Linked DNA regions of Homo sapiens: region 1 is linked to region 2. Evidence: fine-mapped expression QTL. Tissue or cell type: monocytes after Pam3CSK4. Region 2 holds a variant in brackets; the other region holds the start of a gene. All regions are shown on one strand. Distances are between the middles of the regions.

Region 1 (8,000 bases), 25 kb before region 2:
AAGAATTCCAGGTATCTAAAAAGCAAATGTGGTTCCTTTGGGTAGGGACAGAACAGTACAGGCCAGTCTATCTGCAAGTCATTCTGTCTGGGTCCTCTAGCAAGTCAATCCAGTTCAATTCCCAAACACCATGCCAGTCTTGTGTTAGGCTGGTCTCTGCCCTCAGGCATAGGTGGCACATGCTAATATCAACTTAGTAGGGAGAACAAGAGTGGTGCCTTTTAAAGAAACATAGCGGTCAAGGCAGCTGCAAGCAGGGAGGAAAGTGATCAGCCTGGCTGCGGGATTATTAGGAAAGGCTTCGTGAAGGAGGCAGTCCTAGGAAAGACCTCGAAGGAGGTAAGTGGAGTCGGAGGACAAGGCACCCAGCTGAGGGGAACAGCTTGAGCAAAGGCATGGAGTCAGGAAAGTCGAGGCCGACCCAGGGAATGGGGACACATCTAGGGATTGAGTAGGGAAGTATAACTGAGGTCAAACTGCGGAGGTCCTGGAAGGCCACAAAGAAGGTTCGTCCTCCTAAGCCACCACCCAGAGACCCTCGGCTCGGAAGCTGGGATATTCCCAGGGAGCCAACAGGGTAGACCCTCAGGAGGCCTTTAGGGAAGTCTGCCCTTCCCCAGTTTCTTTTTAAACATGCTCTTCCCTCCTCCAGAAATGTCCTTTCCTCCTTCTCAGCCCAGCTGACTGCTACTCATCCTTCGAGTCCCAACACAAAGCTCGCCTCCTCTAGAAGCCATCCCTGGCTCCCCTATGTAGTAACCGGTCCCTCCAAAGTGTTCCCACAGCTCCTGACTTAGTCGTTCTTGGTCTAACTTAAATATCAATGTTCTTTTCGCCCATCTGCCTCCCCACTAGTCTGTAAGCCCCTAGAAGTCAGGGCCTCTTATTCTTTTCTATATTCCTACTGTCTTACACATTGCCAGTAAATGTGGAAGGAAGGGGGAGGGGACGAAAGAAGAAACGGGAAGCACCAGTTCTGGCCTGAGGCACCAGAGGCTTTGCCCTGTGGCCTGTCCTCCTGGTATTCATCTGCCTCACATGACCTGGCGCCTCCTAGCTTGAACCCTCAGTTTCTGCCTCGCTCTGGGCAGGGAGGACACAGCTCCCATTAGCTGCCTCCTGTTGCTAGTGCCTGCCAGCCCCTCATTAGCCCAGATGGTCCCCACTTCTGCCCTGAGAGATATGGGCTCAGCAGAGGTCGAGGCACAAATGAGTTTCCCTGACCTTCCTGCCTGGTGAGCCCCTTATGCCAACCCCAGGCAGTTATCCTCAGGCTGCTATTGGACAGAAGCATTTGATCCTCAGAGCTCTGACCGTGGACACACACTTTACCATCAGTTATGGGGTCAATCCAGGGGCCTAATGAGGAGCATCTTACCTGGGAGAAAGTGAGGCATATGACTCAAGCTAGACATGTGAGGAAAGGCTAGGATAACCAGGAATAAAGAGAAGTATCCAGATGGCATACTCTGGTCCAAGGACCAGATGGCCCCTAGCCTCACTTGGCAGAGGCCAAGCCTCCAGCCTCCCAATTCTTTACATTTCATTCAGCTCCCTGAGAATGCTCCCCTCAGCCTGCCATAGGAGTGTGCTCTCCGCAGCACAGAGGAGTCATGGAAGTGGAGACTGTGAGAGTGACAGAAGAGAAGAAACAGAACATGGAGGCCTGCCTCCTAGGCCACACACCTGTGCCCGGCCACACCTCTGGCTTCTAGACTCCAGCTTGCCCTGGGAACCTCTCCTCCCAGGGAGGCTGAAGACAGGCCCTGGGGCAGTAGTGGGTGGAGACTGGACCTCAACGCCTAGAGGGAAGTGAAAGGGTTAACCACCCCGCCACCCACCACCACCTGCCACTGGGCCCCTCTAGCCAGCTCACCCCAGAGCACTGTAAGCCCAGGCTTGTCTTTGGTGCTCTCTCAATTTCATCTTCCCTCTTATTCCTCCTTCCCACTCCTTCTGGGAGACACTGGGAGGAGAAGCTAGGGGCCATTGGCACCAGCTGTCTCTGGGGTGTCATTTAATACTGTCCGTAATCACCACCTCCTCTCCTGGCTTATTAACTCTTTCCCTCATGGCTACTCTTGTCATCCCTGGACATCTCTCTATCTCTGTCTAGCTCTCACCACACACACACACACACACACACACACACACACACACACACACACACACACACACAGTGAATGGGAAGAGGGAAGGGCTAGGAACTAGGCACACTCTGGTTTCTTGCCACTGCAGTTCCTTTCCCACCTGACTTCACCCCCGAAAACTAGTCCCACCACCAGCTGGGCCAGGAGCAGGAGACAGGCTGGTTCAAGGAGCTGGAGGAACAGAGGACACTTCTGAACCAGCAGAGCAATCACACAACAGCAAGCTCAGAGAAAGAGAATCCCAGAGGGCAGATTTGAGGATGGACACAGGGAATACAAAATTAGAAACTGCCCAAAGATATAGATTCCTCCTCCAAACAAAATAGAGTCACCAGAGTCCGAGTGAGGACTAGAACACTCTGATCATGTATGCGTTTCATAGCCTAGATGGGAAAAGGGAATAGAGGCCTTTTCCCCTGGCAACTCAAGGAGATTCTGCTTCTGAAAGTGTTTCCTGAACTTCAGGATGCTCTGAAGAAGTAAGGAGCCGTATCAATCACTGTTGAGTTCATTGGCAGGAAATAGACCACAGTCAGGGTGAGGGGCTGGGAGCCTCAGACCTGCCACCTGCCAACTACAGGGTCTTGGGTTTCATGGTTGTGAGATTATAATGACCACACATCCACAGGACACTTCTATCTCAAATATCCAGTGCTTCTGTCAGACGAGGTGCCATGATTTGGAGAAGTGAAAAGGTGGGGAAACCGAAGCAGGAGGATCGCTTGAACCCAGGAGTTGGAGTCCATCCTGGGCCACACAGCAAGATATTGTCTCTATTTTCTTTTTAAAAAATAAATTTTAAAAATAAAGAAAATAAAGTATGGTCCTTTCATGCAATGCCCAGCATGTGTCAGTCCTTCCACAGCATCTTTTTCTTTTTCTTTCTTTTTTTTTTTTTTTTTTTTTGAGATGGAGTTTCACTCTGTTGCCCAGGCTGGAGTGCAGTAGTGCTGTCTTGGCTCACTGCAACCTCCACCTCCCAGGTTCAAGCGATTCTCCCGCCTCAGCCTCCCAAGTAGCTGGGACTACAGGCGCCCGTCACCATGCCCAGCTAATTTTTGTATTTTTAGTAGAGTCGGGGTTTCACCATATTGGCCAGGCTGGTCTCCATCTCCCGACCTTGTGATCCGCCCGCCTCGGCCTCCCAAAGTGTTGGGATTACAGGCGTGAGCCATCGCGCCTGGCCCCACAGCATCTATTTTAGCAGCCACCGCAAGGGCTGGGTGACCCTGGTGTAGCCGGGAGTGGGCTTATTTGCAGGTGAACTGGGAGGGTGCCCCCACCTGAGTCTTAGGTCATAGGAGAAGTGCGGGTCAGGCCTCAGCTGCCTATCCCTGGAGCAAAGGCAAAGTCCAGGATAGCCTTCCAGTATCACCTTCCACCAGGCAGGCCAGCCGGTCCTCTGAGAGATAAGGCTCACACTTTGGACTCCACACAGCGACGGGGCCCCCTGCCCCTCCAGCTGGCAGGCGGGCTCCCTGCCTGCTTAGGGGTCTAGGCCGAGGCAGGGGGAGGACCGGACGGCCGGCCACTCGCCGCGACCAGCAGGAGAGAGGGGTGCCTGCCACAGGTTGTCACCCTCGCCGCCTCCCCCGGCGGCGCCCCGCCCCTTACTCAGCCCTCATTACTGCAGCGCCTCGCGGGGGTCTGGCCCGGAGTGGAGGGCGCGCGGTCCCAGCCCTCCCGCTCGGCCGGCGGGTGTCGAGTTCAGGTGCGACCGAAAAGGGGAAAGGAGGGCACCGCCACGTGAGCTGTCCTCTCCGGGGAAGGCGGTGGCTGCGTGAGGGCGGGGGCTGCTCGGTCCCCAGGGCCCCGCCCCTCTGCCCCTCTGCCCCGAGCGGTGCTGGCGGTAGGGAGGGGCCAGCCCGGTCCCCGCCCTCCTCGCCCGGACCCGCGCTGCCCGGCTCCCGCGGGCCGCTCGATCCCAGTCCCAGGCTGGGCATCGGGGCTGGCTGGCATCGCCGGGGAGCCGACGGCGACGGGGAGCCCCGCGGGCGGGGAGGGCGGCGCAGGGCAGCGGGTGCGGTGACACCTGTGGGCACAGGTGAGCGGCGGGAGGGCTACGCGGCCCGGGGGCGGGGCGGCCGGGACCCGGGGCCTGGAAGCCGGGGCGAAGGGGAAGGAAGGCCTGGCCTCCCGAAGGCGGGAGGAGGGGAGCCGGGGGCTGGGCTGAGACAGGACCCTGGGTAGGGAGCAGTGCGAGGGAGACAGCGCCCTCAGAGGGAGGACTATTGGGAGGCGGCAGGAGGGACAGCGAACGTTTCCTCCTCTGCTCCTGAATCGGAGGAAGGTAAGGGAGGGCTGAGGCAGGACCTCAGGCCCACCCGGTCGGGGCACAAACACCTGCGCAGCCTTCTTGAGCCCACCGCCCCTTAGGAGGCCTCTCCTCTTCCAGGCCCTGCCCACTCGAGGGCGGGCCCTCCCTCCAGGTTTAGGGGGGAGGGATGGAGCCCCACGCCTGGCCCCCAGCTCCATGGTGGTATTCCCAGAGTCTGGGGAGGACCAAATATATAGCCCGAAACTGGAGAAACTCTAATTCTATTTGGCTGGTCTCTAAGGGCAGTGGCCGGACAGCTGGCCCCACTCACCTCCCTGTCTGTGGTCAGGAGGGTTCAGGTAGGAGATGGGCAAGCCTTTCAGTAAAGGCCAGACAGTAAAGATTAGAGACTTCGCGGCCTACACCGTCTGTCCCAACTAGCAAGAAGCAGTCACAGGTTATTAGGAGACCAGCAGAAGAGGATGGATTCCAACAAAACTGTGTTTATGGACACTGAATTTGAATATCATGTAATATTTACTTGTCCCAAAATATTGGTGGCTTTTTTGCAGGGGGGGCAGCAGTTGTTTCAACTATGTAAATATGTAAAGGCTTACAGGCTGTACAAAAACTGGTGGCAGACTGGGCTGTCTCCAGCCACCCCCACTCCCAGCCCACCCCACCCACCATGGCCTCCCTCCAGCTTTTTCCCAAGCTTTATATGGGGAAGGGGATGGGGTTATATCTAGGTGCAAGGAGAACCCTCCCACCTGGGTGTATCCAGAAAGCCCGAGACCTGTCTGTGACCCTTGTTCCCATTTGAGACCAGTGCAGGAGCTTGTACCCCAAATATGCACACATGTGAGAGAGGAGGTACATCTCCAAGGGGCTTCCTACCCAATATGTACCTGGACCTACCCTACTCCCACCAAGTCATAGATGAGGCAGCCATGTTCCCCCCAACAAGTGACCAAGCCCTTGGCCCTCTCCTCCCCCACTATACCCTCCCTCCCAGGCCCCCTACCAGCCTTGGTCTCCCGCCTGGTGCCATTCACTGATTGGGGATGGCCCTTCCATTCCTCTTTTCTCTCTTGCAGCCCTAGGGGACCTCTTTCTCCTGGACATTGAAGATATGGCCCTTTGGAGGTGACCCAGGAGAGAAGGGATGAAGGCCTTTGGTCCTCCACATGAGGGCCCCCTCCAAGGACTCGTGGCCTCCCGCATTGAGACTTATGGGGGCCGGCATCGAGCCTCTGCTCAGAGCACTGCTGGCAGACTCTATCCCCGAGGATACCCTGTGCTGGTGAGTCCAGGCTGTGCCCCAAAAGTGACCTGGTGGGGCAGGAGGGAAGACACCTAGGCTGTGGAGTCTCTGTCCCCTTACAGGTTCAGAGGTTGAGCTATTCCTGCCCCTTACCCTACTCTTCTTTCCTGGGTTGCGGGAAAGAGGAGGGCAGTGACAGGGCCAGGCTCCAGGGATATCACACCCCAGTCCCAGCAGCTGGGCAGGAGAGGCGGAGCCAGGAGAAGCCAGGCCCTCCGAGGAGTGCTGTTAGACAGGTCTCAGACAAAGAGCTGCGGGTAAGGTCATCAAACCCCAGAGCTGGCGCCTCCCAGGCTCCCGCCTCTGCTTGGCAGGAGTTTGAGGCCTTCCTGAGATCTGCCTCTCCCTGAGTCAGGATGAAGATGAGCAAAGGTTCAGGGTGTCCCTACTCCTCCAGTGGTGGGTAGGGACAGGAGGGTGCCTGCCTTGGCTCCACCCCTGGCTCCACCTGCCTGGCTCTCCTCCAGTCCTAACCAAGCAGAGGGGTGTGGAAGCCAGGTCTGTCCCTCAGCCTGCAGGTTTCCCCTCCACCTTGAGGACAGTTCTGCTTGTGGCTGGGACATCCCCTGCCTCAATGCACGATAATTTTGCCTTTGGAGATGGGACTTTCCTAGGCTGTGGGTGAGAAGGGAGACTAGAAAGTATGTGGGGTAATTCAGGCCACAGGCAAATGAAGGAATGTGACCAGGCCTGCCCTGGGAGGAGCTGTGTGGCTGTGGCTTCAGCCTTTCACACAGAAGGGCAGCCACTCCCAGCTGGATGGGATGCAGGCTGCACGCCCCTGGGGAGAAGGCTGCACATGTGAGTGCCCTCGTCCCCATGTGTGAGGGAGGCTGGTCATAGACAAGGAGAGTTACGAGAGACCAGAATGCTGTGTGCACCACGCCTTGTCCATGCACCCCCCATGGTACGGAGAGCAGGAGGCAGTGGGGGCACACACACCAGAGCCCAGGCATGTGTGTGCTGTGCACCTGCTCGGCAGGAGGCCCCACTTCTTCCCCAGGCCCACTCAGGGAGCCAGGCTGTCTTGCCTCTGCCCACTCAGCTTAGCCTTGCCGGCAGTGGCCGCTGTGACTCAGGGCAGGAGCAGTCCACACCAAACTGGTTTGCAGGGAGAAGTGAGCCAGCCCGACTTACCAGGGTGGGGGAACAACATCTAGAGCCAAGCCTGCCCCCCTACTACCTCTCTGGGGTTTCTGGGGAAAGGGAGGCACCCCCAGAACTTCCCCTGCTCCTCTCCCAGGATCCCAGTCGCCGACGCCTCCAGCAGTATGTCCCCTTTGCCAGGGGTTCTGGCCAGGCCCGAGGCCTGTCACCCATGAGACTGCGAGATCCAGAGCCCGAGAAGAGGCACGGGGGCCATGTGGGGGCTGGCCTGCTTCACTCCCCCAAACTCAAGGTAAGGGGGTCCCTCTCCTCCCATCCCCACACATACGGCCCCAATTGTGATGGCTCCGCAGATGACCAGCAAGCTCCGGGAGCTGAGAACACAGGTCCAGGAGGCTGCTGCCTGCCAGTCAGACATGGCTCTGCCTAGGACCTCTCAGGGATATATCTCTCTTTGGTCCATGCATGGCAACCAGGGACTTTGACTTGAGACACTTTGATTAAATGTGGATAAACGATTGATATTGAGCTTTCAGTTTTTGAAAACTACCAAGTCAAATTACCAAGTTGCTGAGAGTCAGGTATGCTCTCTCTATCCTCAGTGCCACATCATCCTTCACTGCCACTGTGAGCCTCACCTCTCCTCCCAAGCCACATCCAGATGGAGTGAGTGAGGGTCAGGAGTGTCTATTGCTCACATTCTTGGTACCAAAGAAACCTGTAAAATGGGCCGGGCGTGGTGGCTCACACCTGTAATCCCAGCACTTTGGGAGGCCAAGACGGGCGGATCACCTGAGGTCAGGAGTTCGAAACCAGCCTGGCCAACATGGTGAAACCCCGTCTCTGCTAAAAATGTAAAAAAAAATTAGCTGGGTGTCATGGCGGGCACCTGTAGTCCCAGCTATTAAGGAGGCTGAAGCAGGAGAATCGCTTGAACCCGGTAGGTGGAGGTTGCAGTGAGCCGAGATTGCGCCACTGCACTCCAGCCTGGGTGACAAGAGCAAAACTCTGTCTCAAAAGGAAAAAAAAAAGAAACCTGTAAAATGTAAGCCATGCTGCTTCATAAAAAATGCCATTTTATAGGCAAATGTCAAAGTGGTGCCTGAGACCACTGGTTCTCTAAGTCTTGTTCTGATTCACTTGAAGGTCCCTCTGAAGTGTC
Region 2 (8,340 bases):
ATTAGCCAGGCATGGTGGCACGTGCCTGTAATCCCAGCTACTTGGGAGGCTGAAGCAGGAGAATTGCTTGAATCTGGGAGGCAGAGGTTGCAGTGAGCCGAGATCGCGCCACTGCATTCCAGCCTGGGCGACAGAGCAGGACTCTGTGTCAAAAAAAAAAAAAAAAAAAAAAAAGAAGATTAATGGAAAATAAATAGTTTTGTGTCAGACGTGTTGTAGGTTTTGTTTGTTTCTTTGTTTTTGGTTCTCACAAATTCACCAAATGAATGTCATTATGCTTACTTTAAATATAAGAAATCTAAGGCCCAGGCCAGGCGTGGTGGCTCATGCCCGTAATCCTAGCACTTTGGGAGGCTGAGGCGGAAGATCGCTTGAGCCCAGGAGTCCGAGGCCAGCCTGGGCAATATAGTAGGACCCTGTCTCTACAAAAAGTAAAACATTAGCTGGGTGTAGTGGTGTGTGCCTCTAATCCCAGCTACTCAGGAGGCTAAGGCAAGAGGATGGCTTGAGCCCTGGAGGTGGAGGCTGAGCCACGGTTGCACCACTGCACTCCAGCCTGGGTGACAGAGTGAAACCCTGTCTCAAAAAAAAAAAAAAAAAAAAAACACCAAAAGAAAAGTCAGGCTCAGAGATGTTAAGAAACTTGCCCAACGTCACATAGCCAGTAAGTGGCTATGCTGGGGTTCAAACTCTGAGAGCCCTCAGAGTTTATTCTTTGCAAGTGAGTGACAAGAACAGCCTCTGTGGAGCCAGGAGTAAGGAGGCCTGGACAGTGACTAATGAGGAAATACCATATTGCATCAAACCTAAGACGCCATCAAGAATAAAAGGCACTTTTCTTTACATTACTACCCAGACGCAAACAGAGCTGCCAATTCAACCATGATGAGTCACCAGTTATAGGAGGTTTGATTTCAGAGCTATAAGAGTGTATGTCCTAGAACCAATGAGCTATCGTAGATCCAAGAATCTACATATCTGAGTTGGAAGGGCTGCCAGCCCTTGGGGCATGATCTTCCATCCTCAAAGACTTCTTCAGATTTGAAGAGCAAGGGGAAGGACTGCCTGGTGTCTTAACGAAGTGTCTCCTACTCAGCCAGTAGGACCCTGAGCACTCTGGGGCATCCTGGCATCTGTTGCCCAGCTAATGGTTCCCACCAGTCACCCGTCCCAACCCATGCCACCATCCAGTGCCCAGCAGCTCTCAGAGATACTCACTTACTACAGGAGACACACTCGTTTTCTCTTAGAAAGAAACCTGCATGGCAGGTGCACACGGTGTTCTGTTTCTCCTGGCCTGTAGGGAGAAGTGCGGCACAGCTAAAGGAGAAGCGCCTGCACCCCCACCCCACAGGACAGAGGAAGTGACGAGGGACAGGGTGGGGGCGGCCAGAGAGGAGTTGGTTGTCAGACCCACAGAATACAGGAGGGGGAAGGAAAGGAAGTGCCACCGCATGGGGAAGGGGCCAACCCCTGGGGTGGGGAGAGGGCTTGGCCTCAGGAGAGCTGCGCTCACAGGAGAGGTGCACGGTCCCATTGAGGCAGAGGCTGCAATTGAAGCACTGGAAAAGGTTTTCACTCCAATAATGCCGGTACTGGTTCTTCCTGCAGCCACACACGGTGTCCCGGTCCACTGTGCAAGAAGAGATCTCCACCTGACCCATTTCTGGTGAGGGGAGAAGATGGGGTATGAGTCCTGCATCCTCCTGTCCCTGCATCCCCTTCCTGACATACCCCTAAGTGTGTGTCTCTGTAATACACACTCACATCCATGCAGTGTCCCACCAAAACACACACCTTCCTGCCCACACCCACCAGCCTGCACATAGACAGGCACCCACACACCACTCAAGACCCGCCTGACTCTCCTGCCTGTGCACACTCACCCTTTCGGCATTTGGAGCAGCTGAGGCAGTGTCTGAGGTGGTTTTCTGAAGCGGTGAAGGAGCCGCTCTCACACTCCCTGCAGTCCGTATCCTGCCCCGGGCCTGGACAGTCATTGTACAAGTAGGTTCCTGTGAATGGGGCCGCAGAGTTAGGCTGCGGGTGAGAACACAAGGAAGGAGCCCCATGCTAGGGACAACAGCCAGGGCCGATTCCCTGAAGTCTCTAGGAGAGGAGGGAGGGAGAAAATCCCAGCCCAGGAGAGACAGCAAAGTTAGGGAAGAACAACTGGAAGAAGCAGAGAAAGAAGCAGCACCCCAGACCTGAGGGCATTCACCGTTTCCACTTGCCCCTACCTTTGTGGCACTTGGTACAGCAAATCGAATTATTTTGAGGGTGGATATATTTTCCTTGGGGACACACACTATCTCTCTTCTCCCTGTCCCCTAGGTGAGGGACCAGTCCAATAACCCCTGAGGGGTATATTCCCACCAACAGCTCCAGGAGCACCTGGGGAAGAATCAGATAGAGGAGACACCATCAAGAGAGGGAGGGATGGGAAGCTTAGGGGTAGCAGATCTAAAACTTCCCTGGCTCAAGTCCTTCCTCAGTGAAACATTCCGCCCAGGCCACGCCACTCACTAAGTTTAGAGTTCTTCCTTGAAACTTAGACAGTTGGGGCCATACAATCTGATGCTTAATTGTTCTCTAGTTGTCCTGTGTGTTCATTTTTGTTCCCTCAACTCAAAGCTAGTAGGCCCCAGATCTAAGCTGTATTTTTTTTTTTTTAGGCAGGATCTTGCTCTGTTGTCCAGGCTGGAGTGCAGTGATGCAATCACTGCACCCTCCACCACCCACGCTCAAGCAGTCCTCCCACCTTAGCCTCCTGAATAGCTGGGACTACGGCCGTGAACCACCATGCCCAGCTAATTTTTTTTTATTTTTAGTAGAGGCAGGGTCTTGTTACGTTGCTCAGACTGGTCTCAAAATCCTGGGCTCAAGTGATCCTCCCACCTTGGCTTCCCAAAGTGCTAGGATTACAGGCGTGAGCCCAGCCCTGTATTTTATCCTTACTGTGAAATCCCCCACAGCAGCTAACAGTGCTGGACACAGGGCAGATGTTGAAAGGATGTGTTTTTGATTGGGAATTGGCAGGTTACTTCAGTGATGGCCCCTTCTTCCAACAAGCAGCCCTAAAGATTGGGGCGGTGTTTCTCCATCTGGGTGCTGGGTTCACCGTGTGATCGCTTTGCGAACATTCACAGAGGTAAACAATGAGGATCTATGCACATCCCAGGAATATGTTACACCATGAAAAGCTTTCTGAAAAAGTCAGCTGGCGGTGGGGGCGAGTGATGTTCCCGTGAGCACCACTCCTGGGGAGTGGACAGAAGAAGGAAGTTTATTTACATGTTTGTATCAAACCTCAATCTGCCTCCGCCCTCACATTCCCTGGCCCATCCCCTCCACCTCAAAATTTACAAACACCCGGGGTTGGCAAGGACAAATGGGGAGGAGAGTAAAAGGGAAAGGTTGGGGATCCTGCATGGGTAGACGGGGGACAAAGTTGAGACGGGGGCAGGAGTGGGCAAAGGTGTGCAGGACATAGGCAAATAGAGCTGGCCAAGGCTAGCGACCCAGCTTGGATGACTGTCAGGTCAGAGCTGAGGGCGTGCTGGGGAGTCCTGGAGCCCCCTGCACACCATGGCATTCTGGAAGGTGTGCTTTGCAGTCTCAGGCCAACCCCACAGCAGCTAAATGGCTTGTCCTGTTCCGGCATCAGTGCCAGGAAAGCAAAGCCAGGAGTGAATATTTAGCTCTAACTTGGACTTTGATCTCTGCCAGCTTCATTTCTGGTTTTCCCTGGGCTTCATTTTTTTTTTCTACTATAAGAGACACTTTGTGTAAAGATAAGAGGGTGTCCTCAATGTCTGTTAAACACTGGGGAGCAACTGACTCACCAGATCACAGAAACCCTAGGGCAGGGAAGGAGGGTCAGGCAGCCCACAGCCACCCAGCCTCACCAACTCCACATTTCGGAGCAGGAGGCCAGTCACCCTGA[G/C]TCAGCCACGGGGAGACGCTGCAGCTGTAAGCTGTGCAGGCCCGGAAGTTCAAGCCTCAGCCGCAAACAGGGGAAGCCACACACAGAAACACAACAGCAGCCCCCGCAGGTGGAGGCGTGTGCCCCTGCTCAGAGGACAACAACCTTCCCCTGCCCGCACCAGCCAACACCGTGCCACCTCTGCTGAGAACAGGACTGGGGCTTCCAGGGCAACAGGAAGGGTTTGGGGTGGTGATGGGAAGAACTTCCCAGTCCTGAAAGTGTGGTTCCTTTCCCCGAAGAAGCCACTGGAGCACCTAAGGTCACTGGTACTTTGAATCCCATCCAGGGGGCTTGAGGCAGAGTCATGATGAAGAACTGGGGGACGCCAGCCCCAGACAGCCTTAAAGGGAGCTTTTCAGGGACCTCTGGCCAGTGGGGGATGAGCCTCCCTGGAGGGAGGGAGGGAGAGAGGCTTTCTCAGGCCACGTGTTCCCTTCTCTTTCCAGCACTCTGGGGGTTAAGTCAGATCCGGGAAAGGGAAATCTTTTCCCAGCAACTCCGCCCCAGTGACTCAGGCCAGAGGGAGGGAGACCTAGGGAGGGGAGAGGGAACTAGCAGCTTCCCCAGCTCCTCAAGGGTCATGAGTCAGCAGAAAGGCAGAAGGCACCAGCCTGCATGCAAGTGGGACTCCATCTAATCCCTTCTTCCTATGGCCAAGTCCCTCCTTCCCATCCCCACTCAACCCCCATCCATCCCCTCCCCATGCAAAGAGCCAGGCCACAGACCCTTGTCCCACTTGGCCCACATGTTCCGGGAAATGCCTCCCTCTCCCCATTCCATCCCGAAGGGAAGTCTCCCTCGACCCTGGCTTCCGCCCATCAGGTCTGTGCCCTCCCTTCCCTGAGGGCCACTTGGCTCCTCCTAGCCCCTCAGCGGCCTTTAGCTGAGGCCCCGCCCCAGCTCCTCCTCCCAGTTCAACAAGTCTCCAACAGCTAAACCCATTCCGTGAGCTCTCACTCCATCCCCCAACACTCCCCAGTCCCAGCAGGAAGCAAGCCAAGGCTGCCCTCCCACCCTGGGTTCACCGCATTCCCACAGCCTGGCTGGTTCTGACCAGTTGTGCTGGGTTTGGGGGCCTCCCTGGGGTCCCCAGACAATCCTTAGGAAACAAGGCCAGTTCTGAGTCTCCACAGACCCTCCCCAAGCCCACTGGCAATACAGGAAAGCCTCCAGAGCCCTGAACACCCACTTCCAGGAACGAGGGAGCAGGCAAGAAGGGATGCCGGATGGAAGAACCAGCCCTGCTTCCTAGGCTTCCCCTGGCCCCCAGAATGCTCCAGGTCAGCCCTCTCTGATCCCTAGGAGCCAGGGCCCTCAGACTCCCCACCACTGGGCACCACTGCTGGCACCAGCTGGCCCCAGTAAGCCCAGTCCTCAGCAGTTGCGTAAATGAAGCAAAACAGGAGAAACAGGAGGTGAGCTCTTTAGGCCCAGACTCCAGCCTGGAGCAGAAGGGCAGGAAGCTGGGGTGCCTGTGGAGAGACAGTTGAGGGGGTGGCCCAACACCCCTCCAACTCCCCCACAATTTCCGCCAGAGGAGGCTTTAAAGTGTGACTTCCTGTGCTGGGGCTGCAGAGTGGGGAGGCGACGCTGAGATCGGCCTTGTGGTCTGACCCCGATCCAGCCACCTTGCAGGGACCCAATTAGTCTTCCTTTCCCCCTCATTCATGTGTCTGTTCATTTAATGTCAAGGTGTTGGGGGAGGTCGTGGCAGCTTCTCCTCCAAGGGCCCAGTTGAGATCCCATCTCCCTCCCGTGAAGCCACCATTGACGATGTCTGTTTCCTCCACCCCGGCTCCTTAGACCCATAGTCCCTGTGAACTCGAAGCACGTGAACTGACCCTATCTACTTTTGGCTCTTATCATAATATGGTTATGTTGGGTGACAGATATGATCTCCCCAAAGTGACCACGAACCTTATAAGATGAGAGATCAAAAAATGTCTTGGTCAGAAAGTGTCTTATCCTCCCCTGGTGTCCTCTCAGCTCCCAGAACCAGACCTCCAGACTGGGAGCAGATAAATATGGATCAACTGATCGATCTAATGATACATCTGTCTTCCACTCTAGTAGAAGCCAGTGATTCCCAAAGAGGGAGGTGAGGAGACAGCACCCCTGGTAGGAATATATTTATCTCCGGGGGAGAGTTTTCAGACCATCCCCCCACCTCCCCACACACAAGCACACACACCCTTACTTAAGAGTCTGGTGTGCTCCTCTCCTTTTGAGAACCACTGATGAGTGAACACAGTGTGTCTGAATGATACAAAGGCAGAAAGAAGTTGCAGCACCTCTCCTCCAGCTTGGTAGGCGCACCCTTCCACATGACCATTTCCCTGACCCTTAACATGCCCCAGACGGAATTCATCCATCTCCTCACCTAGACAAATGACACACCATCGACTTCCCGGACGAATGCTGAGAACTTGCCACGCTCTCTCCCCAGGGCCCCATCCCTATCCCTGCCGCCATCCCATGTGTCAGTTCATCTTGCGAGGCCTCCCCCTGTGATCTCTCGGTCCTCTCCGCATTCCTGGGTTGCCTCACACCTGGGTTATTGCAAGTGTCTTCTAGCCTCTCTCCTGCTCCCATCCGTCCTACACACTTTTTAAATCTTCATTCAGGCTTTAACTTGCACGCACAAGTGTGTGAACCTTCCTCTCCATCTCCAGGGCCTGGCTCCAAACAGCATTTCCATGGTCATGGAAATGATCTGAAGACTTCCACAGATGCCTCACTACTTTTTTTTTTTTTTTTTTGAAACAGGGTCTCACTCTGTCACCCAGGGTGAAGTGCAGTGGCACAATCATAGCTCACTGCAACCTTCACCACCAGGACGGAATGTAGTGGTGTGGTCAGGGCTCACTACAACCTCCACCTCCTGGGCCCAAGCCGTCCTCCCGAGCTCAGTCTCCCGAATAGCTGGGATGACAAGCACGCCCCACCATGCCCCGCTAATCTTTGTATTTTTTGTAGAGACAGGGTTTTGCTGTGTTGCCCAGGCTGGTCTCGAACTCCTGGACTCAAGCAATCCACACACCTCGGCCTCCTGAAGTGCTGGAATTACAGGCATGAACCACAGCACCCATCTGAGATGCCTCACCTCACTTCTAATCACAGTCTGGGCACAGAATGTGCCCTAGGAGAACAGCTTCTGAATAAACGAATGAATGAATTCCTCCACCTGGAACCATATTCAACACTCTTCCTCCATCCTCTCCCCCACTCCCTCTAATTCTCCCATTCACATTTCTTAGTGTTTCTCAACATGGTTTTTCCACTCCCGAACCAAGGTGTCTGGCTTCCTGCCACCCTGCCCATCAACACAAAATCCCATCTCTCCATTCCTCTCCTCTTCCTCACATCAGTATCCAACTCTGCTTCCCTCCTTTATAGCTACCCTGACAGGCAGTGACTTCAGATGTCAGCTCCACATCCACTTTTCTATGAGGCTTTCCCTCCGCCATCCCATCTGACACATCTCTTGTTCCTTAATTCCTTCAGCAAATAGTTAAGGGGCACAGTTAATGTGACAGGTCCCGTATGGGTGCTAGGGATGCTGAGGTGGATAATACACAGCTCGTGCTCTCAAGAGCTCTCACTTGAGTCAAAGACAGTCAGTTGTAGGCACTGAGATCTATACAGGGAGTGCTGCAGTTGCACAGTGAAGGACACTGAAGCAGCGTGGGGAAGCTCCTGAATTTTCTGGAGCTGAGCGCAGGAGCTGAGACCTGCTAAGCAAGGAAAGGCAGTGGACTAAGGCTCACCTCCTTCCCCAGTTCCTCCTCCTCCCAACTGGTGCTCCAGGACACCACATCACAATGCATTTGTGGATATTTTCCTCGGGATTGCTCTGAAATCATTTTTCACTGTAAGCCATCTTGGTTACTAGGCTGTAAGCTCTTTGAGAGCAGCAAAATCCTGTTTGCTTTGCCACAGTCTCTCCTGTATCATTCTTCCCTACTCCCCTACCCCACTTCTCTCTCTCTCTCTCTCTCTCTCTCACACACACACACACACACACACACACACACACACTGTGAGCTCTGCATTGCCCACTGAATGGTGAGAAATTCAGAAGGATGTTGCATTCCCTTTGTTTTCCCTTTCCTCCAGCTCCAGGCCAGGCTTCTGTCCCTTAGGAGACATAATCCCACCTGGGCTGAAGCACCCCAGGACGCAGGCACTTCCCTTTACCTGTTCAGGCTACCTTTACCCTCTGTTTTCCCAACACAGGTAGCCACCCAGTAATTACTACTAGTCACAGCAATATAAAAACTTTATTGAGTGCTTTCTATTTGCTACAACCTATTCCCCTGATGGACTGTCAAAGCTGTGGGCAGGGATTTTGT

Evidence for each region. PIP is the estimated chance that this variant, and not a neighbour inherited with it, causes the effect.
Region 1: it holds the start of PLEKHG6, and the variant in region 2 is fine-mapped to the expression of PLEKHG6 in monocytes after Pam3CSK4 (Quach 2016, PIP 0.95). The same link has a PIP of 0.9 or more in monocytes.

What each region holds. Positions count from the first base shown.
Region 1 is chr12:6,306,655-6,314,654 of GRCh38, forward strand. PLEKHG6 (pleckstrin homology and RhoGEF domain containing G6) reads left to right here and starts at 4,028. Exons shown (of 16, transcript NM_001384598.1): 1 at 4,028-4,194; 2 at 5,505-5,710; 3 at 6,975-7,130. The coding sequence starts at 5,573. RefSeq lists enhancers at 2,842-3,562, 6,184-6,493 and a silencer at 3,925-3,974.
Region 2 is chr12:6,331,851-6,340,190 of GRCh38, forward strand. TNFRSF1A (TNF receptor superfamily member 1A) reads right to left here. Exons shown (of 10, transcript NM_001065.4): 2 at 2,241-2,394; 3 at 1,887-2,015; 4 at 1,517-1,666; 5 at 1,219-1,297. Among named protein-coding and RNA genes, the nearest start is that of TNFRSF1A, 6.1 kb to the right of the region's middle. RefSeq lists enhancers at 2,472-3,342, 5,085-5,954, 5,271-5,360, 5,353-5,647, 5,421-5,470. The variant G/C (reference allele first, on the strand shown) is at 3,947.